2 separate regions of the Homo sapiens genome follow, and region 1 is linked to region 2. The links come from fine-mapping of genetic effects on gene expression. Tissue or cell type: whole blood. Region 2 holds a variant in brackets; the other region holds the start of a gene. All regions are shown on one strand. Distances are between the middles of the regions.

The links. PIP is the estimated chance that this variant, and not a neighbour inherited with it, causes the effect.
Region 1: GIMAP1 starts here. The variant in region 2 is fine-mapped to the expression of GIMAP1 in whole blood (TOPMed, PIP above 0.99).

Annotation. Positions count from the first base shown.
Region 1 is chr7:150,712,602-150,720,709 of GRCh38, reverse strand. It overlaps GIMAP1 (GTPase, IMAP family member 1), which reads right to left and starts at 4,097. Exons shown (of 3, transcript NM_130759.4): 1 at 4,020-4,097; 2 at 1,620-1,668; 3 at 1-662. The coding sequence starts at 1,662. GIMAP1-GIMAP5 (GIMAP1-GIMAP5 readthrough) reads right to left here and starts at 4,097. Exons shown (of 5, transcript NM_001303630.2): 1 at 4,020-4,097; 2 at 1,620-1,668. The coding sequence starts at 1,637.
Region 2 is chr7:150,582,359-150,590,466 of GRCh38, reverse strand. No RefSeq gene overlaps it. Among named protein-coding and RNA genes, the nearest start is that of GIMAP4, 19 kb to the right of the region's middle. RefSeq lists an enhancer at 3,762-3,941. The variant G/A (reference allele first, on the strand shown) is at 3,637.

The DNA.
Region 1 (8,108 bases), 130 kb before region 2:
GCCTGCCCAGCGCAGCACCTGCGCCAGCTCATACACCTCGTTGGAGTAATGGGCGCCCTTGTGCTCCAGCACCAAGCCCTCGACCATCCCCAGCAGCTGCTCCACCTGGGCTTCCTGCTCCCGGCCGGTGGCCCGGTTATCAAAGGCACAGACCCGGCCCCCGCACTCGGCCACCAGCTCGCGCAAGGCCCGGTTCTCTGTGTTGCTCACGTAATCGTGCAGGGAGCCCCCGGCCAGGTCCTCCTTCCTGGTGAAGACGATGACCATCCATTTTAGGACGTCCTCCCCGAACATGTCCCTCACCTGCCTCACCGCCTGCTGGTCCTGGGCGGTGAACCGACCCAACTGGGTCACCAGGAGCAGCGCGTGGGGTCCGGGGGCCGAGAGCAGGTAGCAGTGACCTCTCTCCTCACAGCCAGGATCTGTCTTGGACACTTGGGAGCTGAAAATGTCCGGAGTGTCCACGACTTCCACGTGGCACTTGTCCCACCTGCGGCTGCCCGTGGTGCAGGCCCTGGTCACAGACGTGGCCCCCAGCCTGGAGAAGAACCGTCTCTGGCCCAGGATGCTGTTCCCAGTGGCGCTCTTCCCGGCCCCTGTTCTCCCAACAAGGATGAGCCTCCGCGTGGACTCCTGCCGGGACTGAGCGTTCTCTTCTAAACCTGTGAGACCAAGTGTTATAATCTTACTTAAGTTTAACCAACTTCCCCTTGGGAACTGGAATCTTCTTGCCTTTAGCATAAGTGGTTAAGAATAGAGATTTGAACGCCTGGGCGTTCATTTCCACCTTTTCCTTTTGTATTTGGGTTGTCTGCCTGCACCAGTAGATGCTCCAACTACAGTTGATTATCATAGAAATGCTTCTTTATCAGTCCAGCCCAATAGTTCATCTGACATTTCTGGTCATCCACACACATGCAGACATATTTATTTCATATTTGAAAATTTCGATGGACTCTGAAATATTCTCCCAGAGACCATCCCCAGAGACAGGCAGTGGGGGCAATACTGCCTGGTAGTGAAGAGCTGTGTGGAGTCCCAGATACCCTGGTTTGAATCACAGCCCCACCACGTGCTGGTTGTGTAACCTTGGGGAAGCTGCATAATCTAAGTATTAAGCCTCTTCGGCAAAAGTGGGAGCGATAATAGGGGCCTGTTTCTCAGAGGCCTGTTGAGGGGGTGAAATAAGCCCTCTTTCCTTCTTCTCTCTTTCTCTCCCTCTTTCTCTCCTTCCTCTCTTATCTCTCTCTTAAACTGGCTGCCTAAAAAGAATATATGTTTTAACCCTCTATCCTTGTTCTCTAAACATTCTACCTCACAAATCATGTTCACTGTAGTGCATGATTTAATCCCCTCTGCACTTCTTCTGCGGTGATCGGAGTAGGTTTATTATCCTTATTTTATACTGTGGAACCAAGGGAGCAGGCTAGTCACAGAACTTAACTTCTCACAGCAGAGATCCAGCTAAAATGCAGATCTCAGGGCTGGTGCTGTTTCATCCCAGAGTTGAGACACCTCTGGAACTTATCTCTGTTCAGTCTTGAGGAAGCCCCATTCTCCTTATTACCCTAAGTTCAAGCCTAGGGGGGCAAGTATGAGGTGTAGAGATATGGTCTTACCATAGACATTTTCTTCATCTGTCGCCATCTTCCTTCCTCCCATGCTTACCTGGAAGAGTCCCAAACACAATTTGTTAATTCATTTATTTATTCCTCAAATAGGCATAACCACAAATAGGCATAACCACCTACAGGGTGTCAGGCAAAGTCCAAAGAGCTGGTGACAGCACAGTGAAAAGACATGGTTTTTGCTTGCAAGGATCTAAAAATCTAGGTGTATGTCTTGGCAGAAGGGCACGTGGCTAGAGAGAAGACAGGTAAATTTCGTCAAATATAATACATTGTGCTAATCCTTCTTTAAGTAAGGATTATATCGGAACTTGAGAGAATGGCCTTGGAAGGGCCAACACCCTGCCCTTGAGTTGGTAGGATGCTGTGAGAACATTGGGTGAGGCTAGATTTGTCTTTTCAGGAACTCCAAAAGCAAAAAGCAGAGGGTCGGTTATAACATTTACTCAATGCCAATGGGCTTTAGGTATTACTTTTCCCTGGGTGATTCTATATCACTGACATAAGCTAGAGATATCAGGGGATTCAGCAGCTGGGGGAAGATTAGGTAAACCCTCAGAACCAGAAAATGTGCCCAGTGACTTAGGCACCCACCTTCAAGTGGCTGACCTGGGAAGAAAGAAGAAAATTGGGATTTTTCTTTTGGAAATTGAACAGATCTCCCAAGTAGATCTGGAGGGCCCCTAACTCTGTTTTCTTAAAATCAAATAATTTGGTTTGTTTAGAGATGTCTAAATACGATATCTGTGCTGGAGAGACTTGAACACTTCCCTTCAACTCCTGAAGTTGCTTCCCCTCCAAATGTGATTATGCTGAAATCTAACATTGTGTAATACAGCTAAACCCTCTGTGATCCAGTTTGCCTAATCACACAAGCTCCTGAACACAAATTCACTTCTCCCTGCATCTATGTCTCCAGCCTCATTCCCAGACAATACCCCACTCGGTCAGCTACTTCACAATCAGCAGATTTCAGGGCCTTTCCAACCCACTCGGCTTCCCCTCCTAGGACTATTGATCCTCCCCGACCATCTGTCTGTGCCTCACCATCCATGTCAAACTTGTTGTGTCTTGCACCCTGGTCACTTGGATACCTGTGTTCTCTCCCATTGGCACCACACATGAAGGAGGGGCAGAGAGAGAGGCTGGCTGAGTAACTTGTCTTTGATTGAAGGACTTGGAGAACAGATTTGCCTCATATTAAATCTAGAGCTGTTTCTGTTTCTGCAGGAACTCTACTGGCCCTCCCCAAAGCCTTCAATAAAATTCACTCCATGGGCCTTATGTGATTAATTATTTTGCATGTAGGAATGAACAGATGATCATAAATGACATCAAAGCAGAAATGAAGAAACAGTTGCAAGATTCAGAGAAAAGAATTTAGATGAAGCAAAATGTCCTTGTCAACCAAGAAAATGAGAATTTCTTTTTCCAGTGCTGCAGAATTCTGGATAGGCCTTTGGAATTTTCCATAGTTTAGAAGAGGGGTTGAAATGATTTTAAATAGTTTTTTTTTTTAAAGGAAAGTAAGACCCAGCTGAACTCTGAGGTGACAAATGGCCCTTAATCATTGAGGAATGTACACTTATAGAATCCTGTATTCCTAACACTTTAAGAGACCGCAAAGTTTATTGAGTTCTTCACCGCTCAAATGTGCTGCTTCTCAGAATTACTTGAATGTTCTTTAAAAATGTACATCTCTTGGATCCATCCTGAGATTCTGATTCATGAATTAAATGTTTCTGATGTCCACAGCTCAGAACTTGGACATCAGTCATTTTTGCAACCCCCTTTATTGTACAGATGGGAATTTGAGGTGTCCCCGTGGCTGGAGCAGGAGAAGCTTGAATTAAGGGAGCAGATGTTTAAGGGGCCATGCAGGGAAAGGGGTTGAAGACCAAGATATTAATCTCAGATGTCTCCTCAGGGGCCCCTTCTGTGGACAGTGAGGAGGAGAGTTCAAATGTACCCAGTCTTGTCACGTCGTAACTCACTCCGAGGTTAGATGGCTTATGGGGCCATAGAAATATCTTTTGCCTTTGCTCAATAGGGAGCTTGAGGAATGTTTAATGCCTTTCAAACTGTATTTTATTCCTGGAGGTGGTTCCAGCACACTCTTTTCTTACTTTGTTAAGGGAATGTGGGAGGAGACAGATTTCACTCCCCACCAAGAACGTGTGTGCTCCAGAGCTGGAGAAGATGATCCTAAAATTTCCTCTGAACTTTGCCTACTTAAAAACCTGGAAGTATGTCCTTGATTGTTCCAGATCTTGCTCGCCTGCATGATGCCTTGTAGAATGCAAGTGTTCAGGCAGTAAACACTCTAGGAATCATGTTCTTTCTGGTTCTCAGAGCACCCCCAGCCCCCGCCACTCCCAGGCTCAGGCTCACCTTTCCTGGTGACAGGCTCTGAAGTTGGCCACAAGAAGCCCCAACCTGCTGCTTTCCCTTCGGCTGTGAGTGCAGAAGGCTGTTTCCTCTCGGCACACGGAGGAAATCACTCAGACTTCAGAAATCAGGAAGCTCAGGGTGGGCCCCATGGTTATGGTTTAAAGAGACAGAAACATTTCCCATTGAGCTGTGGGTTGGCAATACTTCTCCTACCGACTCTACTTTCTGCTGTGACTGAGGTTATGTGTCTCCAGCAGGGCCTCATGATGTCAAATATCTTGCCATGCTCTAAGAAGGGAGGGATGTTGTAGTCTCTGAGGCCTGACTGTACTTCTAAAATTGATTACTGAGCTAATCTTCAGTTGCCTTTGCCCTATAGGGACATTTCCCCATATAAAATAGGCCCAGAGAGTCTCCTGCCCCGGAACAAATAACGTAATAGCTGTTCTCATCATCTGTCCATTAATTAGACATTCATGTGGCCAGTGCCAGCCCCAGATCCAGTCTGCCAGAAAAACCTGAAGGCAAAGTCTTATCATTCTCTGAGAGAGGAGGGCTTTCCCAGCTATTGAAGGACTTGAGGGTGAACTGGTATGTTGAGGATGAACACCTTCGCACTATCTTCAATTTAGCCTTATTAGGAGGCTTTAGTCTAGTCGTCTATGTTGGTATCACCAGTTCTAGTTATTCTATCTTCTCTCAAGAGCATCATGAGGTCAGCAAAAAAGCGAATCACTGGGTGGTAAGAAGGCTACAGAGGAGCAGGCTGCATATCTGGTTAGGTCATTAACCAGCTATAGGACCTCACCTAACTCATTTAAACTTTCTGGAGTTGGCTTTCTGGAGTATATGGGGAAGACAATAACCCGAGTCTTACCCTACTGGATAGGATCTGCTTTTTAACCTCTTTCATGCCAGACCACTTTTTTTCTGGTAGGGAAGAGACCCAGCTTTTACTGTTTCCCATCTTTTTGGGGGCACAGAGTCTCCTGGATATCTGACATGTCCACTGTTTCCATTCATCATTGCTGAAACAGGGAGCCTGTCATTCTCCCAGTAGACCGGCAGGGCTGGGGCTATTGTGAGGCAGGTGGGGCATCTAGAGCACACAGCTTAAGGAGGCACTCACTCTCAGGTCACCCAAGTGCAGATCTTGTAGGTGGGTGACCCTGGGAGTGAGTGTTTTCTTAAGAGTGAGGTGCCTAGGGCTTCTCACTAGCCTCATCCTAGCCCAAGCCACATAGATCAGCTTTGAATAAGTCTTTGATACTTGACGTGTACCTTTCATAAAGACGCTTTCAGAGCCTCTTCAACAGCTCCGGGCCATTTATTGTTTCCATGCATGTGTATGATGTCTTACTTCAGCCACTCATAACTCTCTGTCAGAGGGTTTATCTGACTACAAAAGTATATGTAGGTAATGCATGCAGCAGCCTGAAGTTGTCAGAGCTGATATCCTAGGAGCAGATTTCAATCAATGTCAGTTAGGACTTATGGATAAACACCACAACTTATCAAGTTGTCCACCACGTGAGACAACTCTGTGATGTACTGCATACAAATTGCTGAGTCCCCAGCAGGACTGAGACCCAGTTGTCTGCAGTGGGAACATCCTCATCACCGTATACAGTGGTAATGTGCTCATTAATGCAACTTGCATTGGCTACTATCCCTTCCCGTCCCACATTTCCACTTTCCTACTGGTGCTTTCTGGGATCTTCTTCCTATTGAAAAGTAACCGTTTCTGTCTTTATTTTCCTCTACATTTCTATTAGCTCTTGATTATGTCTCACTGTCTCTGGGCTTTGTTGCCTATTATTATTCATTGATACTTACTATCAGTTGTGGAAACCCAGGTGAAGCTCAGACCCTGACTACACTTGAGTCTCAGAATTATATCTAGAACTCCGGCTTCCTTTTGTACCCTGTATTAATGCTTCCTTCCTCTCTTTCCAGTCTTTGCATGTTCATTGTTTTCTTCCGTATCCTTATAAATGCAGTGAAGAAAATGTATTAGTCCGTCCTCACGCTGCTTTAAAGAAATACCCGAGATTGGGTAATTTATAAAGAAAAGAGATTTAATTGGCTCACGGTTCCACAGCCTGTACAGGGAGCATGATGCTGGCATCTCCTTGGCTTCTGGGGAGGCCTCAGGAAACTTACAATCATGGCAGAAGCCAGAGGGGAAGCACACACATCTCATGGCTGGAGTAGGAGCAAGAGAGAATGGGAAGGAGCTGCATACTTAAAAATTTTTATTTAATGTACTTTACATTCTGGGATACATGTGCAGAACATGCAGGTTTGTTACATAGGTATACATTTGCCATGGTGGTCTGCTGCACCCATCAACCTGTCATCTAGGTTTTAAGGTATTTGTCCCAATGCTCTCCCTCCACTTGCCTCCCCAACCCCCGACAGGCCCCCATGTGTGATGTTCCCCTCCCTGTGTCCATGTGTTCTCATTGTTCAACTCCCACTTATGAGTGAGAACATGCAGTGTTCGGTTTTCTGTTCCTGTGTTAGTTTCCTGAGAATGATGGTTTCCAGCTTCATCCATGTCCCTACAAAGGACATGAACTCATACTTTTTATGGCTGCATAGTATTCCATGGTATATATGGGCCACACTTTCTTTATCCAGTCTATCACTGATGGGCATTTGGGTTGGTTCCAAGTCTTTGCTATTGTGAACAGTGCTGTAATAAACATATATATGCATGTGTCTTTATAGCAGAATAATTTATAATCCTTTGGGTATATACCCAGTAATGGGATTGCTGGGTCAAATGGTATTTCTGGTTTTAGATCCTTGAGGAATTGCCACACTGTTTTCCACAATGGTTGAACTACTTTACACTCCCACCAACAGTGTAAAAGCATTCCTATTTCTCCACATCCTCTCCAGCATCTGTTTCCTGACTTTTTAATGATCGCCACTCTAACTGGTGTGAGACGGTATCTCATTGTGGTTTTGATTTGCATTTCTCTAATGACCAGTGATGATGAGGTTTTTTTTATATGTTTGTCACATAAATGTCTTCTTTTGAGAAGTGTCTGTTCATATCCTTCACCCAATTTTTGATAGGGTTGTTTGTTTTTTTTCTTGTAAATTTGTTTAAGTTCTTTGTAGATTCTGGATATTAGACTTTGTCACATGGATAGATTGCAAAAATTTTCTCCCATTCTGTAGGTTGTCTGTTCACTCTGATAATAGTTTCTTTTGCTGTGCAGAAGCTCTTTAGTTTAATTAGATCCCATTTGTCAGTTTTGGCTTTTCTTGCAATTGCTTTTGGTGTTTTAGTCATGAAGTCTTTACCATGCCTATGTCTTGAAGGGTATTGCCTAGGTTTTCTTCTACGGTTTTTATGGCTTTAGGTTTGACATTTAAGTCTTTAATACATCTTGAGTTATTTTTTGTATAAGGCGTAAGGTGTGAGGAAGGGGTCCAGTTTCAGTTTTCTGCATATGGCTAGCCAGTTTTCCCAGCGCCACTTGTTAAATAGGGAATCCTTTCCCCATTGCTTGTTTTGGTCAGATTTGTTGGAGATCAGATGGTTGTATATGTGTAGTGTTATTTCTGAGGCCTCTGTTTTGTTCCATTGGTCTATATATCTGTTTTGGTACCAGTACCATGCTGTTTTGGTTACTGTAGCCTTGTAGTATAGTTTGAAGTCAGGTAGTGTGATGCCACCAGCTTTGATCTTGATCTTTTTGCTTAGGATTGTCTTGGCTATACAGTCTCTTCTTTGGTTCTATATGAAATTTAAAGTAGTTTTTTCTTGTTCTGTGAAGAAAGTCAATGGTAGCTTGATGGGAATAGCATTGAATCTATGAATTACTTTGGGCAGTATGGCCATTTTCACAATGTTGATTCTTCCTATCCATGAGCATGGAATGTTTTTCCATTTGTTTATGTCCTCTCTTATTTCCTTGAGCAGTGGTTTATAGTTCTCCTTGAAGAGGTTGTTCACATCCCTTGTAAGCTGTATTCCTAGGTATTTAATATACTTTGTAGCAATTGTGAATGGGAATTCACTCATGATTTGGCTCTCTGTTTGTCTGTTATTGGTGTATAGGAATGCTTGTG
Region 2 (8,108 bases):
AGGAGTACAACTTACAAGGGATGTGAAGGACCTCTTCAAGGAGAACTACAAACCACTGCTCAAGGAAATAAGAGAGGACACAAACAAATGGAAAAACTTTCCACACTCATGGATAGAAAGAATCAATATCATGAAAATGGCCATACTGCCTAAAGTAATTTATAGATTCAATGCTATCTCCATTAAGCTACCATTGTCTTTATTCACAGAATTAGAAAAAACTACTTTAAATTTCATATGGAACCAAAAAAGAGCCCATATAGCCAAGACAATCCTAAGCAAAAAGAACAAAGCTGGAGCATCATGCTACCTGACTTCAAACTATACTACAAGGCTACAGTAAATATAACAGCATGATACTGATACTGAAACCGATATATAGACCAATGGAATAGAACAGAGGCCTCAAAGATAATGCCATCCAACTACAACCATCTGGTCTTTGACAAACCTGACAAAAACAAGCAATGGGAAAAGGATTCCCTATTTAATAAATGGTGTTGGGAAAACTGGCTAGCCATATGCAGAAAACAGAAACTGGATGCCTTCCTTACACCTTATATAAAAATTAACTCAAGATGGATTAAAGACTTAAACATAAAACCTAAAACCATAAAAACCCTAGAAGAAAACCTAGGCAATACCATTCAAGACGTAGGCATGGGCAAAGACTTCATGACTAAAACACCAAAAGCAATGGCAACAAAAGCTAAAATTGACAAATGGGGTCTAATTAAACTAAAGAGCTTCTATACAGCAAAAGAAACTATCATCAGAGTGAAGAGGAAACCTACAAAATGGGAGAAAATTTTTGCAATCTATCCATCTGACAAACGGCTAATATCCAAATCTACAAGGAACATAAACAAATTTACAAGAAAAAAACAAACAACCCCATCAAAAAGTGGGTAAACAACATCCACAGACACTTATCAAAAGAAGACATTTATGCGCCAAAAAACATGAAAAAACTCATCATCATTGCTCATTAGAAAAATGCAAATCAAATCCACAATGAGATACCATCTCATAATACTTAGAATGGCCATCATTAAAAAGTCAGCAAACAACAGATGCTGGAGAGGATGTGGAGAAATAGGAACACTTTTTAAAAATATATGTATTTTTTATTAGTATACTTTAAGATCTAGAGTACATGTGCACAACATGCAGGTTTGATACATAGGTACACATGTGCCATGTTGTTTTGCTGCACCCATCAACTCCTCATTTACATTAGGTATTTCTCCTAATGCTATCCCTCCCCCTTCCCCCCACCCCACAACAGGCCCCAGTGTGTGATGTTCCCCACCCTGTGTCCATGTGTTCTCATTGTTCAATTCCCACCTATGAGTGAGAACATGTGGTGTTTGGTTTTCTGTCCTGGTGATAGTTTGCTGAGAATGATGGTTTCCAGCTTCATCCATGTCCCTACAAAGGACATGAACTCATCCTTTTTTATGGCTGCATAGTATTCCATGGTGTATAGGGGCCACATTTTCTTAATCCAGTCTATCACTGATGGACATTTGGGTTGGTTCCAAGTCTTTGCTATTGTGAATAGTGCCACAATAAACATATGTGTGCATGTGCATTTATAGTAGAATAATTTATAATCCTTTGGGTATATATACCCAGTAATGGGATGGCTGGGTCGAATGGTAATTCTAGTTCTAGATCCTTGAGGAATTGCCACACTGTCTTCCACAATGGTCAAACTAATTTATACGCCCACCAACAGTGTAAAAGTGTAGAAATAGTAACGCTTTTTCATTTTTATAGTAGAATGATATATAATCCCTTGGGTGTATACCCAAGAGTGGGAGTGTAAATTAGTTCAACCATTGTGGAAGATAGTGTGGCAATTCCTCAAGGATCTAGAACCAGAAATACCATTTGACCCAGCAATCCCATTACTGGGTATAAACCCAAAGGGTTATATATCATTCTACTATAAAGACACATGCACACATATGTTTATTGCAGCACTATTCACAATAGCAATGACTTGGAACCAACCCAAATGCCCATCAATGGTAGACTGGATAAAGAAAATGTGGCACATACATACCATGGAATACTATGCAGCCATTAAAAAAGATGAGCTCATGTCCTTTGCAGGGACAAGGATGAAGCTGGAAACCATCATTCTCAGCAAACTAACACAGGAACAGAAAACCAAACACTGCATGTTCTCACTCATAAGTGAGAGTTGAACAATGAGAACACATAGACACAGGAAGAGGAACATCACACACCGGGGCCTGTTGTGGGGTGGGGGGCTGAGGGAGGGACAGCATTAGGAGAAATACCTAATATAGATGACGGGTTGATGGGTGTAGCAAACCACCATGGCACGTGTATACCTATGTAACAAACCTGTACGTTCTGCACACGTATCCAGAACTTAGAGTATAATTTTTTTAAAAAGAATAAAATATTGGAAAGCAACATAGAGTGATGAAAACCAGACAAAAAGTAAAGGTGTTTAGATCCTCAAAATGAGGAACTACACGTGGCCACAGCCACATTAGAAAGACTGTTACTCTGAAAGTACTCCCCAGACCAAGGTTCAAGGGATGGGTAGAACTCTGATATCTAATATATCTATTTCCTGAGCCAACATCTGGAGAGACAAAACTCAGGATACACATCTGACTGCTTTATTTTTCTGCATTCCCCTCTGGCTCTTTTCCCCTAGAAGAGGATGTGGGTTTCCATATCTTATTACCTAGACTTCTGTATAAAACGCTAGTGTCTAGTAACCTGGAAACCTGGGCCTTGACATGGAAATTGGAGAAATGATAAAATGCAGACAATCCATTCTGAAGAAAGTACTCAGGCTAACATGGCTGAAAAAATTCTATTAATGTTTTTGAATGTTGGCAGCTGATTTTTCTATATGTCTATGAAGCAAATATTGCATTCTCAAAGAACCTCTAGCATTAGCATGCATTTAAGCTTGTTAAAATACAAACTTTCTGAGGAAGTAGGTGTAGAGTGGAACCTGGGAATTGGCATTCCTAACACCTAATGTTCAAGGCATTTCCCCTATTTCCAACATTCCTAGTAAATGACAGGGTGCCAAAGACCCTTCTCCCCTGCAGGATTCCGAAGGACATAGAACACACAAAGAACTCAATCAAATCAGGCAAAATACCGTCTTTTTACCAGAAGGATATGACTTTCTAATAAAGATGGAGTAGAGACCAGAGCTGGGACCAGAGCTCAAAGTAAGTGTCTTAATCCTCCTACTGGAACAGAAGGGAGTTATTCCCCATCCTGGGCCACCTGACAACCACAGAGTGACAGCCCCAGGAGAGAAAACCAACAGAATCTGACCCAGGCAGAGCTGCCAGAAGGAGACCTTCATTGGTGACTGTAGAGTGGAAAGAGAAAGCAAAAATGAAGGTCATGTCTGGTCACCACAGGGCAAAGGGGAAAGGACAGTCTGTTTCTTGTTTTTGGAAAGTTAAAACAATAGTAGGAAGTGCTCCAGTGGGTGTCAGGCTCTCTAACATCCTGGAATTGATCAGTCATCTGCATTCCTGAGAAGATGACAATTTATTAAGCAACTCCAGAGTTGTTTCCTCCTGGGTGTAGAGGGATAAACAGTTTCTCTTTCCAAGCCAGAGG[G/A]AGGAGAGTGAGCTTGGTATAGAAATGCCCAGTGCTGTCTTTGGTACCTTCCCCTGTAACTCAAAATCTCTAGGAAAGCTGCTGAAGCTTACATAATGCTGATCACTATTATGATGGTGGAAACTAGGCAGAAAACTGAACTTCAAGTGAATGAACTGCAAGTGCATGAAATGGGGTAAGACAGAGGACAGTGGCACACGCAGGAGGAAGTAGGGGAAGGATGAGGAAGTGAGTGCAGAAAGCTCCCTGCAGGAGGGAGTTTGGATTCTGTGTGCTGTGGAAATGCAGCTTGAGCCAAGTTTTACCATTCTCCAAGGGCAAGGGGGATGTACCACTGCCAAATGGGTGAAAAATATTTAACGAGTGCTTCACACACTCCAGGATATTGGAATCCAATGGTGAATAAGGAAGTGTTCTTCATCAGCCATAACTGTAGGAGACAGATAGCAAGTAGTCAAAATACAAGATCAAAACTACTTTGTCCTGGGTATACCCAGCATCAATGAGCATAAGTGTCTTGAATGGGCTAGGAAACATTTCCCACAAAAAGGTCAGATAGATGATGAATGCTGCTCTATGAATGCTTCAGCAGTGCCAAATCATCTTGTGGCTGACTGCCATGGTTATTACTTGAGACTGTCACTATGACAGTTACTACTGTTACTACTTGAGACCGTCATTACAAGACTGAATGAAGGGACGAACATAGAAATGAAAACTTAAGACAAAAGAAACCATTTTAAAGGAAAGGGAACTGGGGAAGAAGAAAAGGGCTCCCTGCTTCTAGTGAGCAAAGGCCGCCCCTGAGCTTCTACCACGCTTCGTATTTATTGGGTAGAATGACCAGGGAGCAGAAGGTAATGATTGGTCAGCTGCTTAATTGAACACAGGTTCACATTATTACTAACAGGCTTCAGATGTACCTAATCACAACAAACATTGCACTTGGCCGTCACTGCCCTCAGTATCCCTTCTGGGTGGAAGACACAGTTTGTCGGTCTGCCAACATTCTGCATTTGAGAAACAGTTTGCTGCCTACTCATATAGCCTCCAGTGGTATGCTGAATTGACCACGACCCTCAATCTTTTGTCCTCCAACATTTCTCCCTTTTTGTTTTTGAATTAATTGAATAAGGCAATTGCAAAATGTGCAGCCTTCAATTGCTGGTTGGTGGTTCGTTCGTCTTCACATTCAGATTCAACTGGCTCATGGCTCACACTGGGGGAACCAGGCCTGTGGCTGGGATCCATGGTTCCCTCCAATCTCCTGTTCCATGGTTGTACACACCTTGAGGGCACCCACATGGTTTGTTCATTTGCTGTGAAAACACAAGCATACCCTCGCCCCCACGTTAGTAAATCTAGCAAAGCAGAAGCAAAAAGTTTTTGTGGCTGTAGCCGGGAGGCATGCCGTTGCTGAAGCGTCTGCTCTGCAACCTGTAACTCAGCTTCTGTCTCTTTGGTTAATTACCGCAGGGTAAAACTTTCCATTGATAATGAGAGGCTGGCTCTTTCTGATTAACAGAAGGCACACAGAGAGCAAATCGAGGCTTATCCTTCTCCAGTCTCTCATTCCATCACCACCCAAAGAGAGCAGCCCAGGGAGCAGTGTGTGAGGGTGAACATTAGAAACATGAAAAGGAGCAGCATGAGAGTGAACAGCTTGTTGAAGTCCCAGAAACAAGTGAAACGGCCCTGGTTTGAATGCCTCTGACATATCTCCCCCTTTACAAGAGGACCCTTAATCCTAAGGGTTGCAGAGGGATGAAGATCTGTCTTCTGTAACTTCTTCAGGCTGAATAGGGGTGATGATATTCCTGCCTAACTATTAGGGTCTCTGTTTCTGCTTCAGAAGATAGTACAGGTGTCTCTACTACTGAAAAGGGCAGTACAGGCCAATTCTCATCCTCCCTCTCCTGCCCTCCACCCCCGGTGGGTTCAACGTGCAGGGCAAAAGACTCCTTTAAACCTTGAGACACAAAACACGAACCGCCCATCCAGTCTGAGACATGACAGAATCTCAGCACTCTGTTGAACACTTTGAGCTGTTCCTACTCCCACTAGGGATGTAGAAGATAGTTTTAGGGACCGAGATAGGGGCCAATTGTTTTTAGATATTACTGACACACTGACACATCAGCTCCTATATCCATAAGCCCATAAAACTTCTTTCCTTTGATTTGCACTGTATAGGTGGGTCTATTAGATGCCACGGGTTGTGATAGGTAAGTCTCTCTCCCAGTTGCACTTCCAAATCCCTGACCTCCTCACTTCTTCTTATGTAGAGAGGGGTACAATTTATAGGGAATAAGCAACAGTTGAGCAATATATTCTCCTGGTTCAAAAACCCAAAGATCTTGTGACGTTACCACTGCTTGAATTTCTCCTTCACAATCCCAATTACCAACTCCTGGGCCTGTAAGTTAAGACAGCTTTTGCCCAAAATTAATCCCATGTATCCTGTTGGCAAAGGTCCACAAATGCCAATGGGAATCTTAGTGAGTTTGTTTCTTCCAATTAACGTAACCTGCTCTCTAACTGGGCCATCTAATCCTGCGCTTCCAGGTGTTCCTGGGGAGAGGGAATCAATATGCCTCTGGAAACCAATCCCTGAAATGAAGCTGTTCTCTGGACAGGGAATGCCCTCATTTTTTGAGGTGCCAGGGTCCAGGCCCCCTTCTCACTTCCCAAGAGGGGGCTGCCATTTTGATGAAACTTTGAGTGGCATTGATTAACTCAATGATTCCCTTTATTGCAATGAGGGCCAAGTCCTGGCATTTTTTCTGTTAAGAGGGGAACTGTGTTACAAGATCCCTTTTGCCCAGAGGTCTGGCAGTGTTCTTTTTTGAAATGTCCAATTTTTCTACACTTATAACACTTTCCCACATTAGGGCTTGACCCTTGGCTTCTTTTAGATCTGTCAGCTACCAAATTAGCCATTGTCTGAGTCAATACTGCAGAGCAATGAAGCTCAGTTCCCACATCCCGACAAGCTCCGAGAAAACCTCCCAAGTTCTCTGCACATCTCACAGGTGCCAATGCAGGTTTACAATCCCAGAAAGCCAAAGCTAAAGTTAGCCTTTCTGTAGCCACAAAGGAAGATGGTACAAGCCAATTTCCATTCTCCCTCTCCTGTTCACTACTTTTGATAGGTGCTGTAGGTGGGGCAAAAAATTCCCTAAAACCCTGAAATAACAAAAAGATAGTACGTACCGAACTCCAAACAAAAGAGCGAAGAAATAGCCAAATTCTTCCCCATGTTACCCTGATTCAAAAACTTCCCATTCTTTGTACCTCTAGGGCCCTGACCTTATGTTGCTGCAGGCAGACTTGTAACAGGGTTTCTCATTCGTCTGGTTGGTTTTAATTTTTTCTGGGCTTTGGTTTTTTCTGTTCCAGCAGACCTTCCTCATTCAAGTCCCTTTAGGACCCAACTCTCCCTATCTGTCCCAGCAAGTTTTGCTAGTCTTTATCTATCCCTATCTGTCCCTCTCAGTCCCTATAGCCCCTGTTAGTTCCTGCAAGTTCTTGCAAGTCCCTGTCTTTCCCTACCTATCTCTATTTGTCCCTATTTGTCTATTTATCTCCATTTATCCCTCCTTATCTCTATTTGTCCCTGCAGGCCTCTTCAGGTCCCTTCAGGTCTCTTTTTGTCTCTGATAGTCCCTGTTTGTCCCTGTTCAGGTGCCACTTTTGGCTGACTGCCATGGTTATTACTTGAGACTGTCACTATGACAGTTACTACTGTTACTACTTGAAACCATCATCACAAGACGGAATGAAGGGACAAACGTAGAAATGAAAGCTTAAGACAAAAGAAACTTTTATAGGAAGGGGAACTGGGGAAGAAGAATAGCACTCCTCCTTCTAGTGAGCAAAAGCAGCCCCTGAGCTTCTACTGCACTTCGTATTTATTGGGTAGAATGGCCAGAGAGCAGGAGGTAACTACTGGTCCGCTTCTTAATTGATCACAGGTTCATATGATTACTAACAAGCTTCAGATGTACCTAATCACAAGAAACATCGTGCTTGGGGTGTAACTGCCCTCAATATCCCTTCTGGGTGGAAGATGCAGTTTGTCAGTCTGCCAAAATTCTGCATTTATGAGAAACAGTTTGCTGCCTACTCATATAGCCCCAGTGGTATACGGAATTGATCACGACCCTCAGTCTTTCGACCTCCAACATCATCTGTTGTTTCTGAATCACGGAGGAGCCTAGAATGATATTTCTCATCACCTCTTACACTGTATGGTCCAAGTGAGAATAAATCAAGATGAGACATTCACATGAGATTTGGATGGTGGACAAGGAAGAAGGACCATTCTCTGGCAGCAACAGCAGAGAGACAATGAGCAGACCTACCTGCATGTCACAGCAAATGAGCGCCTCAAAACCACCCAGCTCTGTGCATCAGCAAGCTTCCAAGACCTCTGCATTCCCAGCCCTCCAAGGGGTGGGCCAGCCTCTAAT